Regions from separate parts of the Homo sapiens genome. Here region 2 is linked to region 1. The links come from fine-mapping of genetic effects on gene expression. Tissue or cell type: monocytes. Region 1 holds a variant in brackets; the other region holds the start of a gene. All regions are shown on one strand. Distances are between the middles of the regions.

The links. PIP is the estimated chance that this variant, and not a neighbour inherited with it, causes the effect.
Region 2: it holds the start of NCS1, and the variant in region 1 is fine-mapped to the expression of NCS1 in monocytes (Quach 2016, PIP 0.95).

The regions. Positions count from the first base shown.
Region 1 is chr9:130,131,183-130,139,357 of GRCh38, forward strand. GPR107 (G protein-coupled receptor 107) reads left to right here. Exons shown (of 18, transcript NM_020960.5): 18 at 3,843-8,175. The coding sequence ends at 3,939. Among named protein-coding and RNA genes, the nearest start is that of GPRACR, 8.9 kb to the right of the region's middle. The variant AACAGGTG/A (reference allele first, on the strand shown) is at 4,437.
Region 2 is chr9:130,168,197-130,176,371 of GRCh38, forward strand. It overlaps NCS1 (neuronal calcium sensor 1), which reads left to right and starts at 4,208. Exons shown (of 8, transcript NM_014286.4): 1 at 4,208-4,531. The coding sequence starts at 4,468. RefSeq lists enhancers at 3,322-4,110, 5,572-6,482 and a silencer at 4,185-4,274.

The DNA.
Region 1 (8,175 bases):
GGCTTTTGGGTGTTCATCTGACCCAGGTCTCTCTTCTCACTGCTGCAGAGCCTGAGCTTCCAGGACCGTTGCGGGCGCCCTGTCTGCAGGGGGCTAGCCAGGTTTCCTCACATCGTGGGGGCCCCAGGTGTCCCTTCAGCTTCCCAGAGGTTTGCTGGGGGAACAGGATGTAGCGCCTACCCCACCCTGGGCATCTGCCATCAGGTTTCTTCCTCTCCTTGAGTTCACTTCTGCCACTCCCAGTCCTGGCCACACACTGAAGCTCCCTGTCACCCGCCCTGCCTGTGACAACCTCCTGCGCTACCACACACCCTTACTCCCGTTCTCCCTCTTCGCACTCCCAGGACTCACCCAAGCCCAGGGTTGCCCCTGCTACCCCCTCACTGCCCCCGGCCCCTCCTGAATGCCAGGTCCCCCTGTCCTCCTGCTCCGCGTCACCTCAGCCTTGAAGCCACAGTCTTCCTGCATCACACCAAGCTCGCCCCTCCCCATTGTTCCCTATAGGCCTTGGTGACACGGACATCCACCCAGTCTCCTGCAGCCATGGCTGAACCACGTCCCTCTTCCTCAGCCCGTGCAGAGCGTCCTGTAGGCCTTACTTTGTGCCTCTCACCCCCAGCCCCACCCCGCCTCTTGCTCTCGTGCCTGGGCTTTGTGGTGGCTGACCTCTTCACTCCCGATCCTCTCCCCTTCCTGTCCATCCTTCTATTCCCCTGCAGACAGGGTCTCACTCTGTCACCCAGGCTGGAGTGCAGTGGCACTATCACAGCTCACTGCAGGCTTGAGCTCCCCGGGCTCAGGCAATCCTTTCACCTCAGCCTCCTTAATAGCTGGGACCACAGATGAATGCCACCATGCCCAGCTAATGTTTTTGTATTTTTTTGTAGAGATAGGGTTTTGCCATGTTGCCCAGGCTGGTCTCAAATTGCTGGGCTTAAGCAGTCCTCCCGCCTCAGCCGCCCAAAGTGCTGGGAATGCAGGCGTGAGCTGCCCTGGGAATACAGGTGTGCCCAGCCCTTCCTGTCCATTCTCCCGGGCTCTAGAATCACCTGTAGAGTGTTTTTGCAGTGCCAGTTTCCTGGCCGCACCCCTGGAGACTCTGATTCTCACCCCTTGGGCTCAGGATCTGTGCTTTTCTCACTCCCCAGGGCAGCCTGAGCAGGAGGCAGGGCTGAGAACTGCCAGAGTAGGAATCAAGGCCATCCTTGGGTGACCAGGCAGACTGGGCCCTCGACAACCCTGCCGTCCTGTGTCCACCCTGGTTCTCTCCCTGCCACTCTCCTTCCCAGACTGGCTGGATGTATTAAAATATATTTGCCGTAGGCCAGGTGCAGTGGCTCACGCCTGTAATCCCAGCACTTTGGGAGGCCGAGGCAGGTGGATCACCTGAGGTCAGGAGTTTGAGACCAGTCTCGCCAACATGGTGAAACCACATCTCTACCAAAAATACAAAAGTTAGCTGGGCATGGGGACATGTACCTATAATCCAGGTACTTGGGAGGTTGAGGCACGAGAATCACTTGAACCCAGGAGACGGAGGTTGCAGTGAGTCGAGATGGCGCCACTGCACTCCAGCCTGGGTGACAGAGCGAGACTTCATCTCAAAAAATCAAATAAAAAAAAAATATATATATATTTTTATATATTTATATATATATACACATATACAATCCACACACTGCAAGTACTTAGCACTCCCTCACTGCCCTGGGAAATGTCCTGGGTTTTTCCTTCATGCTTTTTGCCTGTTATATTTCTTCTTTTTGGAAACTCCCCTGACCTCCCACCCATCTTGTGGGCCAGATCCTCTGCATCTCATGACGGGCTTCCTGGCTTCCCCGATTCCCCGGCAGAGGGATTCTTCTCAGCCCGAGCCATCACCGAACCCGGTTCCCAGCACTCCTGTCTCTGTTGGAAGTGGCTTTGCAGGGTTGCTGTGGAAGACCATCTCTTCTCCTGGGCTGTGGGCTCCGAAGAGCAATAAGACCACTTCTTTTTCCTTGATGACCTAGCATGAGGCCTGTCTTGAAGAATAAAAGTTGTTTTCTCACTTGGCCCACCATGTGGAAAGGAGTATTTTCTTAGAGAAAGAAAGGGAGAAAATGTTTTTCCCAAGTCTGCCGTCAGGCCCATATCCGGGTCACAGTGAATGCGCTTTGCCTCTTAGAATCAACGTGCATTGAACTCTTTGTCCTTTTTTAACAAGATGCAGTAACCATAGGACAGCTGTGTGATTACTGGAGTGTTTCTGGAAGACGTGGGGTCGCATTTCTTTGTGGTCTCAGTCACTGTGGAGAGGCACGGGGGCTGCTACGTGGCTCGGGGCAGGGGCTTCTCTGGCTCATGCAAAGGCCCTACCTCCTGCATCCCCGTCTAGAGAAGGTCCCTTCAGGAGCAGCCCTGTGCACATGGATCCCTCCTGGGGCAAGTGTCTTCCTAAAGAGGCCAGGCCTGAGACACAAGCCAGCTGGCCAGAAGTGACGCTGGGCGGCTTCAGCTGAGGCATTTTCGTCTTAGGGGATGCTTTTAGAGTCACTTATAGCATCTATGGGATCTGGCCACATACCTTGTCCCAACTTTGCCATAAGTACAAATAACCTGTGAGTCTAAAGGACTCGTTTGAGAAAGGTTCCGGCTTGGGGGATTCTTTGAGCCTGGGCATGGTAGCACCATAATGGCAAGAATGAAGAGATGAAGAAGAGGGGGAAGTTTTCTTCCCTTACCCCATACAAACATTTACTTACCATGAGGTCCAGCTGCATGCACTCTAGATGGGTCACATATACGGCCACTGTGTTGCCATTTGTAGGGGAAGGGGTTAGGTAGTTGGCAGAGGGATGGGTTGGGTCCTTGGAAAGAGCCTGTTGAGTTGATTGATTGAATTTATTTTACTGATGAGGAAATTTCTTTTGGTCCACCATGGGGGAGCATAAATCCTCATTGTTTCCTCGCTTGCAGGGAAGATGCTGGGCCAAGCGGCTTTTGACACCCAGTATCTCTGCCTAGTTCTGCTACTCACAGAGCCACCCAGTTCCCTCATAGACCAGCTCACCTTCTGTGAGGCAAGAGATTATCCTCTTGAGAAGGTGGGGCCCGTGCATGTGATTCCTTCTAATGGAAAGGGCTGCCTTGCTCAGCTCCTCATGCCCTGCGAGACCAGCGATCTTCCATTTTTAATCCTTGATTTCAACGAATGGCTCCATGGGGCCTCCTCAGAGCCAGGCACCAACAGACAGAGCCCCGGGAGCTCACAGAGTGGAGGCAGAGGCCATGCGCTGAGGCACAGCCACATGGCCCAGCCCCAGCTAGCAGAAAGCAGCCAGTTCTCTGTCTATAGTGGCCAAAGAATCTTTGATCCTGGAAGGTTCCTCTAAACCTGTGGTTCTGTCCCCTGGCTCAGAAATGATCCATTGTGGCTGCTTATTAAAAATGTCTGGTTGGCTAATTAGCTTTCTTTTCTGAATGTCCATTAAGAGTCAGATTTCAGTCTCATAAGCGTAACTATCACATATCTGTGCGCCACAAAAATTCCGCAAGCTGTGACAAAAAGATTCATGATGATTGTGATAACGATAGCTGGTGTTTATTGATTAGGCACTCTGGAGAATCTCATTTTTCCTCATGACAGTTCTGGAAAGTGAGAATTACTTAAGCACAGAGAGTTCAAGTGACTTGGCCAAGGTTACACAGCTAGTAAGGAACGAACCAGGAATCACACTTAGATTTTGTCTGTTTCAAAAACCAACACCCATCATCAGTCCTAATCACCGTGCTGTGGCAGAGATGGCCTTTTACTAAGAGACTGTGAGATGTTCCTAATTGTTTTTTCTTTCCTTGTTCAGTGTGACAACATCTGGGGTGATGGAAAGTATGAAGAAAGTCAAGAAGGTGACCAACGGCTCCGTGGAGCCCCAGGGCGAGTGGGAAGGCGCCGTGTGACAGAGCCGACCCTGAGGATGGCACTGTCCAAGGAAACTGTTAACTTATTCATAGTCCTATTGGACAGCAGGAGCAGCTCCTACAGTGAACTATTGGCACCACCGACAGTGACACCAGGGCACATGGCTGGAGCACAGTGCCGCGGAAACCTGATTTTGTACTCTCTTTTATGGAAACGATCTGTGGCTGTTTAGAGGCAGCTGGATCCTCTTTCAGGCGGGAATGGGAGGGCGGGCACAGGGAGGAGGAGAGGAAGAGAAAAGGAAGAATTCATTTTTAATTTAGGTTTCTTTTTTTCTTCTTCATTTCGGAGCTCTAAGGTGTATGCAGTTGTGACCCCATGTGTGGGGAAGTGTAGCAAGGACGGCTGGTGGAGGGGGAAGGAGGGTGCGAGGTGTCTGTCTGATGCTTTAGGAAATGTCTACTGAGGACCCTGGGACTTAAGAAGAAGGGCGGGGAGAGTGCCATTGCCTGTTTGGGAGACAAAAATGAACGAA[AACAGGTG/A]ACTTTGGAAAGCAAAGTCAAAACCCAGTTTAGGATGTAGCACCTGCCCCAGGATTCCTGCCCTCGGCTTTGCCCCAGACCCTTATTCCAGATGCTGAGAGTGACCAGGACAGCAGCTCCTGAGGCCCAGTGGTCTTCTTTCCAACAGGAAAAGAAGGCTGTGATGTCGCTGTCAGGATCATGCCCTGTGGCACAGCACAGGTGGTGGGAGGTGGTTTTCTGACTGAGATGTTGCCTGATGGATGGAAAGAAATGTATTTTTAAGTTCAAAAAGCATTATCCTGTGGCGTTGCCTGGACATCCACTCCCTGACAGCCCAGAGCAGCACTGTCTGGCTTCCCTTCATGCTTGTGGCTTTGTTGTGTTTGATCAGAATTTTGGGGGAAATGGAAAGTTTTCCTCAAGGAGCAGCTGGGGGCAGAATAGGTAGTATTTAAGCAAATACTTAAGTCCAAGCAAATCATCCCCATTAAAAAGCTTTTCCTGTAGGCTAGTAGGATTTCTAAATAGATGAATTCAACAGACTTGGTCCCCATAGTCCAAGAGTATGTATGTGAAGAAAGTGAGCATGATTCAACAGTTTCACTCTCAGGGATTTTAGGATGGCAAAATACTTCACAGAAACTCAATGATTAAGTTCCCTTCCACACTTCCAGAGCTTGAATGAACACAGGTAGCCACCTAAATTGAGCAGTATTGCAACTCAGAGAGAAAATCATCTGAATAGTAGGACAAGCTCAGAAGGTACATTGTGACTGAGGGCTTAAAAGGAGACCAAAACATGGCCCCATCAGGGAAGCTTCTTAATGCTTGGGGGGCCAGCTAGGTAGGGTTGCTTCCAAAAGCTGGAGCCCACCCCTGCCTAGGGGTTGTCAGAGAGCCACACCTGCAGGGGAACAGGTACCTCCGAGGGTGAGAGTCGTGGTCTCTGGGAGTTGTTTTCTCACCTCTGGCTTAGAAGGGTCAGGCAGAAACCACAGGATGTGGGGTCACACTCACTGTCCCAAGTTTGGGAACCTGAAAAAGTCTCCATTCAGAACATGGTTGTTCTCCCTGTCCCATGCTATCTTATCTTCCTAAATGACTAATGAGGAAGCGGGTGTTCTTTTTCTGCACTTTGATTCGCCATCTGGGTTCTGTAGGGTGCTCTGAAGGTGTGATCTGCCTTCTGGCTGATGTGGAGGAAGAGCAAGCGCCTTCCCAGGCCACAGCTGCTCACCTCTCGGCAGATATTTTAGGCAAGCATCCGTGTGTCTTCCCATCTTCAGGAGAAAGGTAAATGCACCCTAAGTGTTCACTTCTGGACCTTTTTCAAGTTCACTTGGGACTGTGTGACAGAAGGGAGTTGGAGGGAGGATGGGAATATTTTTAACACTTTGTTTTCCTGTGCAGAAACATAATACCAGTTTTCGCAGAAATGTGTCTCAATCTGTGACTACCAAAGCCCTCCTCAGTCCTTCCCTCAGAGGGACACATTTGCTGTTTCTCCCGCAAGCAGATGTTGTGGATGAGGCGATAGACTCCTTGGCAAGAACGAAAGGTGTGATGAAACCTCCCTGCTCGGAAGGGTCTCCGTGGAGGTGTCCTCATTTCACATGCTGGGTTTTGCAAGCGAGGAAGCCAGGCAGTGGAGGAACTAGAGAGAGGCAGGCGTGTGTGTGGACAAGCGCTGGAGCCGCAGCCCTCAGACTGGCACGGGAACGCCAGCGTTGGGTGTTCAGATTCCACGCGTATGTCTGGGCTCACTCACAGCATGGCCGAGTGTCTGCAGTGCTGGTCCTGACCCTTCCAGAGCAGCAGTGGACAGATGAGATAAGACTGTTTCAGAAACAAAGATGGCCACAGCCTTCCTAACAAGCAGGTCATCTGGCCATGTCTGTATTGTAACTGGTAAAAGGCTTCAAGTCAGATTGATGATCAAGAAAAGTCAAAACCCCAGCCCAAGATTGGGAAAGCAGGTGGTGGTTCCAAGCTTTTAAAAAATTATTGAAGCTCTCCATCCTGTTCTGTGAGTGTGTCTTCTCTTTCTCCTTCACGTCATAGCCGTGACCCACCGTTCATCTCTGCTCTTGCGTAAAGATGACCGATGGAGTCCAAAGCCAAGTGGCTTCACCAGCTGACAAGCCACCCTCCTGCAGCCTGAGTTTCACAGTCCACTGGGTTCGTTGTCATGCGGTGTTTGAATGGTTAAGCCCTTGCAGTATTTCAGATCGGGCAAAAAATATCGGATGCACATAGCAGAACCATTGGTGGTATTTATAGCTTTGCTTTGTACTCCTCACTGTTTCTGCCTACGCAAAATATCCATGTTTCCTCTGAGAAATCTGTTGTGGACTGAAAGCGCTGCTGGCTGTGAAATTTAATAAAGTGTGTATGCTTTGCTAGAAAATTATTTCTTGGACAATAGGAACAGTCATTGATCTGTAAATCCTGGCTCTTAACAGTGAGTGGCCAAGGACTTGATCAGCCCATTTCTTGGTCCCTCAGTGCTTTAAAATTTAAGTAGCACTGCATTTTGTAATGTTGAATATGACTCTAGTGACTTGTAGGAGGCACTTGTGAGGAGATGCTTGCTTCAGTGTAAAAGATGCTCATGGCCTGAGTCAGTTGAGTTTTCTTTCAAGAAACCACTTCAGAGTGAAATATCCAGGGTTTCCCCGCCCTGGACATGTCCAGCCTGCCCAGGCAGCACACAGCCCTGTAAGTCCACCTCGTGTGGGTGAGATTTCCTCCTGCGTGATGACCTCATCGCCATCTCTGCTGTCTCATTCCACAGCCTCCCTCCCTCTTCTCTCCTCCTCTGCCCTCGCCCTTCCCCCTTCCCCATCCCCTCCCCCTCCTCCTCTGCCCTCGCCCTTACCCCTCCCCCTTCCCCTTCCGCTCCTCCTCCCTCCTCCACCTCTTTCTCCTCCTCCTTCCCTCCTCCTCCCTCCTCTTCCCTTCTCTGCCATCTTTCTCCCCGTGCCTATTGATCCCACATAGGCTCATTCTGGGTACACCGGCTAAAGGCTTTGGTGCATTGCAGCGTTTTCTCCCAGCAGCTGTGTGAAAGATGCATTTTCTAAGCTAAGGAGAATTTTCTCAAGAGTGGCATACTCATGCCAAATATTATTGCTCTGGGCCATATAGGCTGGTCTTCCTCCACACTAAAATGGGTGTCTTGTTTTGGTACTTAAAACAGTCTACTCCAGGCATCCAGTCCTTACAGACCAAGGAAGAGCATAGCGATGCCTGTTGGAATTGCAGATGCATTCTGGCCTTCTCCCCCGTCCTGAAACATTTTCTTTGAGGAAGGCTCTTAGAACATTAGATAGTCTGCTGAGGTTGTTGGCCCAGCTCCATACACCCAGTAGAACAGTGGAACAACTCATGCTTCATGCTGCCAAGCTGCTGTACTTCAAAGGAAACAGATCTAGCACACTGCTGCACCCCTGCTTCCACACTCCACACTTCACCCCGCTGCTTTTCTCTGACCCGCCCCTGGCCTTGTAAGACTCACGTAAGCTAAGTCCAGGATGCCTGTGGCCTGCGGCTTGATTCTTCCCTTTAGGATTCAGCAAGTTAATGGCTTCCTCGCTATAGAAGTGAGACTTTGACTTGATGCCTCTTGGTATATCAAAAAGATATTCATCCAGAAAGTACCAAATGTTCTGAAAGACCCGCTCTTCACTCCAGTTTTCCCTAGGGTGTTTCTGGCAGGGCGTTTTTAAAAGGCATCTACCTGAGTTGACG
Region 2 (8,175 bases), 37 kb after region 1:
GTCTGCCAGGATGGCTCCCAGTGCATACCTGCAGCCTGGACCTGTCCCTGAACTCCAGACGCCTGTGCCACCTGCTTTCTCCCGTCACCACTTGGACATCTGGTAAGCATTTCACACCTCACCTGTCTGCAGTAAGATTCCAGCTCTTCCTGTCCAAACCTGTCCACTCCCCATCTTAGCAAATAGAAACCCCACTCTTCCATAAGCTCAGCTCAGAAAGCCCGGCCTTGTCCTTGAGTCCCCTCTCTCCGTCTCATACCTTCCAGCCCCCAAATGTCTCTCCTGCCTTCCAGCCCCCAAATGTCTCTCCTGCCTTCCAGCCCCAAATGTCTCTCCTGCCTCTAAGCATACTCCATCCACTCCTGCTTTCCCCTGAAGCCCCTGCCCAGGCTGACCCCCGGGCCCCAGGAAGTCTTCAGATGGGGATGGACTTGCTGGCCTGGAGGAGCTCATTCTGCAGAGGAGGTAGGATGGGCCTCAGCTGGAGGGATCTGGTGTAGACTTGGGAGCAGAATGTCTCCCAACCTTGAAGACCAACTCAGAGGAGACAGCAGTGAGGGAATCCTGCTCTCACTACCCTCAAAATGTCACCGAGTCTAGCCAGTTCTGTGTCCTCCAAGGCCACACTACACGTGGCCACCACCACCTCCTGGCTGATGATACAGTGACCTCTGGCAGTTCCCCATTCTTACCCATCTGTGCCTGGAGTCAGTTCTCCCTGCAGCAGCAGCTGAAGGGGCCGGCTAAGCACATCAGATCCCTTGAGTCGGGAGTCTGACCTTGCCTCCCCACTCTGCACCTCGCCCTTTAAAGCCCACCTTACTGTACCCCTGCAAGGCCACACACAAGGCTGTACGTGGGCCAGCTGGGCTCCACCTGGGCTCTGCCACGGGGCCTGGGCGATGCTCCCCCTCTGCTCTCAGTGAGGCTCCTTCTCTAGCCAACACCACACACCTCCGGCCCTCAGCCCTTCCCATTTTCCTTCCCGCCTCATTTTTCTTCTTTCACCTGTGAGATACATTCTACTCATGCAGCGTATTTATGGTTTCTTTTTTCTTTTCTTTTCCTTCCTTCCTTCCTTCCTTCCTTCCTTCCTTCCTTCCTTCCTTCCTTCTTTCCTTCTTTCTTTCTTTCTTTCAGACAAAGTCTTGCTCTGTCACTCAGGCTGGAATGCAGTGGTGCGATCTCAGCTCACCACAACCTCTGCCTCCCAGGTTCAAGTGATTCTCCTGTCTCAGCCTCCCAAGTAGCTGGGACTACAGGCGTGCACCACCATGCCCGGCTAATTTTTGTATTTTTAGTAGAGACGGGGTTTCATTATGTTGGCCAGGCTGGTCTTGAACTCCTGACCTCGTGATCCGCCCGCCTTGGCCTCCCAAAGTGCTGGGATTACAGGCATGAGCCACTGCGCCCCCGTGTTTCTGGTTTCTATGCTGCACTTATGCATGTTGTTTATTGTTTATAGCACTCTCCCCTCACGAAAGTGTAAGGTCCCTGATGGCAGGGATCTGGTCTATGTCCCCAGGGCACATAGTAGGTGCTTAGTAAACATGTCCCGAATGATGGGATGAATCTGTGAAGTCCCTGAGTTCCTTGGCAGGTGTTCCCATGTATGTTCCCCCACCCTCTCCATTCCTTGCATGGTGTTTGTTGCCAGTGTGATTTTGTGATCGCTGTGCAGCAGGTCGGGTCAGATCCGTGAGCTCCCATGTTGGTCTCAGTGCCCAGCACGGCACCTGGCACAGGGGCAGTGAGCAAGAAATACTCACAGGATGAGTACCTGGGTTTCTTGTGTGTGTGTGTGAATGCATGTGAGTGTGTGAGTGTGTGTGTGTGTGTGTTGAGACAGGGTCTCATCACCTAGGCTGGAGTACAGTGGTGCCAACAGGGCTTACTTCAGCCTCTACCTCCTAGGCTCAAACAATCCTCCTGCCTCAGCCTCCCGAGTAGCTGAGACTACAGGCATGTGCCACCATGCCCAGTTAATTTTTTTTTGTATTTTTTGTAGGAATGGGGTTTCACCATGTTGCCCAGGCTGGTCTTGAACTCCTGAGCTCGAGCCATCCACCTGCCTTGTCCTCCCAAAGTGCTGTGATTATAGGCATGAGCCACCATGCCTGGCCTGCCTTCCCTCCCTCCCTCCCTTCCTTCCCTCCTTCCTTCCTTCCTTTCTCTTTCTTTTTTTCTCTTCTCTTTTCATGTGTGTGTGTTTGTGTGTGTGTGTGTGTGTGAGAGAGAGAGAGAGAGAGAGAGTCAGGGTCTTTCTCTGTCACCCAGGCTGGAATGCAGTGGCACAATGACGGCTCACTGCAGCCTCGCCCTGCTGGGTTCAAGTGATCCTTCCACTTCAGCCACCCGAGTAACGGGGAGTTAGGCATGTGTCACCAAGCCCAGCTAACTTTTAAAAATTTTTGTAGAGATGAGGTCTCCCCTGTCAGGCTGGTCTTGAACTCCTAAGCTCAAGTAATCCTTCCACCTCAGCCTCTCAAAGTGCTGGGATTACCAGCATGAGCCACTGCACCCAGCCTGAGCACCTGGGTTTCTAAAGGGCTTTAACTACTACTGCTGTCATCCAGCCAGGCCCTGGTTCCCGTGCTGGCTCTCCCTCCTCCCAGGCAGGATGCTCAGCACAGTCTGGTCAACTGTTAGCCCCCCACTGTGGGCCCCTCACTGCTGTCCACTCTGAGTTGGTCCTCAAGGTTGGGACATTCTGCTCCCAGGTCTACACCAGATCCCTCCAACTGGGCCCACCTCCTCTGCAGAATGAGCTCCCCAAGCCAGCAAGTCCATCCCCATCTGAAGACTTCCTGGGGCCTGGGGCTCAGCCTGGGCAGGGGCTTCAGGGGAAAGCAGGAGTGGATGGAGTATGCTTAGAGGCAGGAGAGATATTTGGGAGCTGGAAGGCACTCGGCCCTGCTCAGGGTTCCTCTGAGCTTTCTGGACCCTCCGAGGTTAGAACACTGTGGAAAGAAGGGAGAAAGAGACCCCACTCCTGCCTCATCCCTGCTAGCCCCGGGGAGGGCTGCCTCATCCTCCCCGCTCTCTCCCCTACCCCAGGGCCCCAGCACCGGGTGTCATTCTTTCCTCCGTCCTTCGCTCATTCACAGAGATTTGCTGGGTAACACCTCAGGCGGCCTTCTGGGTTATGGAGATGCCTCTGCCCTCTGGGAGGGTGTTCTCCCATGGAAGAGACAAACAGGATGCAGAAAACATAGGTGACGTTTGTGATGGATGTGAAGGAGAGAAACTAAAGCCGAAAAGGATAGGAGAGTTCTCAAGATATGATGATATGTTGGATGAGGTGGACCGGGAAGGCCATGCTGGACCTACCACCTGAACCACACCCCCCTACGCGAATCCACTGGCCTCTGTCCATTCAGGTGGAGCCTGTCACCCCAGCCTCGGCTCAGAGAAACAGCTCTGAGCAGCTCTGACCTGTCACTCCAGCAGCTCTGACCCATCACTCTCTGCTGAAGTCCTTTCATGGGCGCTGGTGGGCAGGGGCCCAGCTCCTCGGCGAGGGGCCTCTCCTGGCCTGCCCCGTGGGCCCTGCCCTTCTCCCAGGTCCCCTGTGCCTGCAGCCGTGCGCAAGCCCGCAAGCCGGGGAACTCTCCCTCGGGCATGCAGGCCTCCCCGCCTCTCCAGGTTGCCTGGGCCAGAACGCTTCTCCATCCACCTCCCTTCCTGACCCTGGGTTTGGAGGTCTCCTGCCCCCAGGCCGAGAGTAGGTGCTCCCACCGCTACCTGCCGCATCCCGCACAGCCCCCTGCCCGCCCTGCGAGGGCTGGGGCACTCCTGTCCCGTGGGCCGCCGTGTCCCCGGCACCCCATGAATCCGTGTCGAATGAATGAATGTCTCCGGGCCGGGACCTGGCCTCATTCACATCCGATCTTCCGGGCCCTCCCCGCCGCGGCGGGGGCCGGAGCGCCAGGGCTGGATTCGGGGAGGGGGTGGCGGGGGTGGCTGCCCCGCCCTGGGGCCGCGTTGAGCCGAGGGGACGCCCCTCCGGCTGGCTGGCGAGGCCGGGGTCCAGCTGGCGGAGGCCGCGGCCAGGCGGGTGCGGGGCGGGAGGTGGCGCCGGGCGCTGAGTGGCGGCTCCGGGTCCACCCCTGGCGCGCGGGTGCGGGCGGGAGGGGGGAGGCGGGAGGCGGGGAGCGCAGGGGCGGCGGCAGGCGGGAGGCAGCAGCGAGCATGTGCCGCGGAGCCCAGTAACCAGGGACGACCGCGGCCACACCGCGCCGGCGCCGGCGCCCAGCCCAGGCAGCCCCGCGCCGCGGCGCCCGGACCGCCCGGGCCTGCCCAGCGGCCGCCCCACGCCCCGGGCGCCCCGGCGCCGACAGCCGCGCAGCGCAGCGCGGGCGCCGCAGACAAAGGCGCGGCCCCGGCCCGGCCCGCCCGGCCCAGCCGCTCCTGCTGGGCGCCCCAACCGGGTCCGGCCCGGGGGGGCGGGGGCCGCGGCCGCCGAGGATGGGGAAATCCAACAGCAAGTTGAAGCCCGAAGTTGTGGAGGAGCTGACCAGGAAGACCTACTGTGAGTGCTCCCAGCCCCCAGCCCGCGCCCCGCGGTCACCCCCACACCCACCGCCCCCGCCCCCGCCCCCCGGACCCGCGCGCTACCCGCTCCGCGCTGCCGCCTCCGCTCCGTCCTCCCCGCCCGGCCTCCAATGTGGACCCCTCGGAGGTTCCCGGGCCGCGCCCCTGCCCCCCGCCCGGCCCCATTGTTCTGGCACCCCCAGCCCGGGGAGTGCGCGCCGGTCGGCGTGCGCGGCGCCACCCCTAGGTCCGGAGGGGCAGCCCCAGCCCCCTGGCGGCCCCCTCTCCGCAGAGCTGTCCCAACGGGCAGGGGCTGTTGCCAGGGTGGGGCGGTGGTCCCGGGAGGGGGCGCCCGGCTGCGCGGAGCCGACTGGCACGAGCGCGCGGGGCTGGTGATTCATGCATCACGATGCCGCCGCCGCCGCTGCTGCGAGATTGGCCTGTCGCCCCCTCCCTGGCCCCGTTCGTGTGGGGGGGGGGGTGGCGAGACTTGGCACAGCGCTCGTCGTGCGGTGACGGCGGTGAAGGGTCCCCGGCACCCTGTGGGTTGCAGCACTTACAGGCTGGATTCTCCCTGGCCCCATCTCTGTCTGCCACACCGGGAAGTGGGTTTCTACAGCCCGGGTCATCTGGGCCGCGTGTGATCATTAGCTGTCGCGGGCTGCCCGGAGGAGGATGGCCTGTCCTTTCTGGGCGTCTCCAGATCAGCCTCAGTGTGTCTCCCTCCACTTGCCTAACTTCACAACTCTGCAGTCCCCTTGCAGTCCTAGTTTCTCCATACCAGGCTTCCCCCTTCCCTGCAGCCTCTCCGGAGGTGCCCTGGCATACCAGGGGTTAATGGTAATGGGTCCAGACCACCCAGGGGATTGCCAGAGGGAAGGCTTCAGCATCGGGGTCTGGAAGGACCTCTGCCTGGGTGTTTGACTTGGAAGGGGACAGTGGTTCTGGGCTTGGGTTGGAATTCAGAACCCATCCCCGGGCAGCTGCGTGGGCCCAGGCCCTCTGCACCACCCCTGGAGGCAGCAGCTTGACCGCCAGCCCCATGTGTTGATGGAGGCTGGGGAGGCAGCTCCTGGTGGTGCATTGCACAACCTCTGCTCCCCGCTTCCCCCCACTCCATCGGCCTTCTGGGCACGTCTGCAGGTCTGTCCAAGCCCACGCTTCAGCTCCATGCCCCTCACCCCTCATGCTTGGAACAAAGGGGGCTTTCCTGAGCGGGTGCTAGTCTGCTGCGAGGTGCTGGCCCTTCTCCTGTGGAATCCTGCAGCATGGAGCTCACATCCCAAGAGCTGCTACCTGGAAGGGGTGAAGCCCCTGGGCACAGGGGCTGTTCTCACCCTCTCTCCAAGGTGGGCAGGTGGGTGGCCCATTCCAGTCTGGCTGCTGTTTTGTGAGATTCGCTGGGGACTCCTTCAAGCTAAGTCCAGATGTGGCCCACAGCCGCCAGCAGGTGGACTTCCTGGGTCCCTGTGCCGGGGGAGGGTGAGGACACCGTGGGCTCCATCAGGAGTGGTGGGCATGGGCTGCACGGGATGCCTCCATCATGGTGGGACAGGGGAGTGAAGCCAGGTTTCCTGCTCATCGAGCATGTCACGTGCCAAGCTCTTGGCATCATTAGCACCTCGACTCTGCCACAACTGCTCTACCAGGCTGGGTGCTGCTACGATCTCCATTTACAGATGGGGAAACTAAGGCTCAGAGGGGCAAAGTGGCATTCCCATGATCCCACAGCTAGTGACCAGGCAGTGCCAGGACTTGAACTCCGGTCTGTCCTGCTCCAAGGCTAGTGAGAGACTTCAGAGCTCGTGCCAAGAGCTCTTCTGGGCCAGGCACAGTGGCTCACGCCTGTAATCCCAGCACTTTGGGAGGCCGAGGCGGGTGGACCAGCCTGACCAACGTGGAGAAACCCCCATCTCTACTAAAAATACAAAATTAGCTGGGCATGGTGGCACATGCCTGTAATCCCAGCTACTCGGGAGGCTGAGGCAGGAGAATCGCTTGAACCTGGGAGGCGGAGGTTGCGGTGAGGTGAGATTGCTCCAAGAGGGAAACTCTGTCTCCAAAAAAAAAAAAAAAAAGCTCTGCTGGGTGTCTTTTTCTGGCTTTTGCTAGAAGCCCATGATGGTGGATTCTAAATGGGAAGGGCCTGGGGTGATAGTCCTGTCCGGCCCCCTCCTCCGGGCAGATCTGTCAACTTTAAGAGAAGTTGAGTCAACAAAGCTTTGTTAGGAACTGGCCCTTGTGGTGCTGGGCTGGGCTATTTTTAAAGGCCTTTGGAGACGTGGAACAGTTTTGGGCAGAGAGAGAGTTGGCCTGGGTACTTTTCCTCTGTCGAAGCCCTTATTAGGGGTGGGCCGTTGGAGGTGGCGGTGGGTTCATTGGCCTCCTGTCTGCCTCCCGCGCTGACGTCAGCTCCCTAGTGCAGGCCCTTGTGTGTGGAGCTCACAGCTGTGTTCCCCCCATGTGTTGGCCTTTAGTAGGTTCACAGAATGAAAAGTCTCCCAACAGGACAAGCAGAGAAAGCTTCCAGCTTGTTCTCCCGCCCCCAGATGGGCTTCCTTCTGATGGGGAGTGGAGCCATCTGCTCTTTGTTCTGGGGGATTCTGTGTATGGGGTCAAGAGAAGCGCCCCAGGAAGGACTCTCAAATGTCAGAATCTCCTGGTTGATTAATAAACATGAAGGTACCTGGGCTGCCCTCCCGGATTTCCGATTCTTTAGGTCTGGCTGGGGCCCAGGAATTTGCATCCTTGACACGTGTTTGTGCTGCAGATGGTGGTCCTGGGGAGCCCGGATTGAAGACCACAGTTCCAGTGTATGCTGGGGGTCCTAGCCCACCTCATGCATAGCTGGCCACAGTGCCAAGGGGGCCTAGAGGGGAGCCATGGGTCCACGTCCGAGTCGGTGCTGGGCAGTGTCCTTGGTGGGCGTCTCTGGCTCTGTCTGTGGTGGTCTGTGTGTGTGAGGAAGCAGGAGTGTCTAAAGGCCCCAGCAGTGTGGCCCTCACTGGACACACTGGGATTCCACCTGGCTCAAACCCTAACCCAGTCCTCAGCCTTCCACCAGCAACAGGTTAGGGAGAGATGGACAGGGTCACTCTGCAGCCAAGACTTAGACAGTGGCAGTCAGCATTGCGGGCGGCCCAGTTTCTTTCAGGTCTGGCCCACTCTCTTCCAACCTGCTGGTGAGGCTGTTGGCTTCCCCGTGTGTCCCGGCTGTGGGATGGGCCGGTCCCCTCACCTACCTGAGCCTCAGTTTCCTCATCTGCAAAATAGGTGTGCTCATGGCACCTGAACTCAGAGGATGTGAGAAGTCAACAGGGTAACTCATGTGCAGTGTGGGGCCTGATATGTGGCGTGGGGTATGTGGTCAGTAAATGCCAGTGATCGTAATTAATGCTTATTTGTTCATTTTCTTTCTTTCTTTCTTTCTTTCTTTCTTTCTTTCTTTCTTTCTTTCTTTCTTTCTTTTTTTTTTTTTTTGGAGACAGGGTCTGGCTGTGTTGCCCTGACTGGAGTGCAATGGTGCAATCATGGCTCACTTAAACCTTGACCTCCTGGGTCCAAGCAATCCTCCTGCCTCAGCCTCCCCAGTAGCTGGGACCATGGGTGTACAACACCACACCTGGCTAATTAAAAACATTT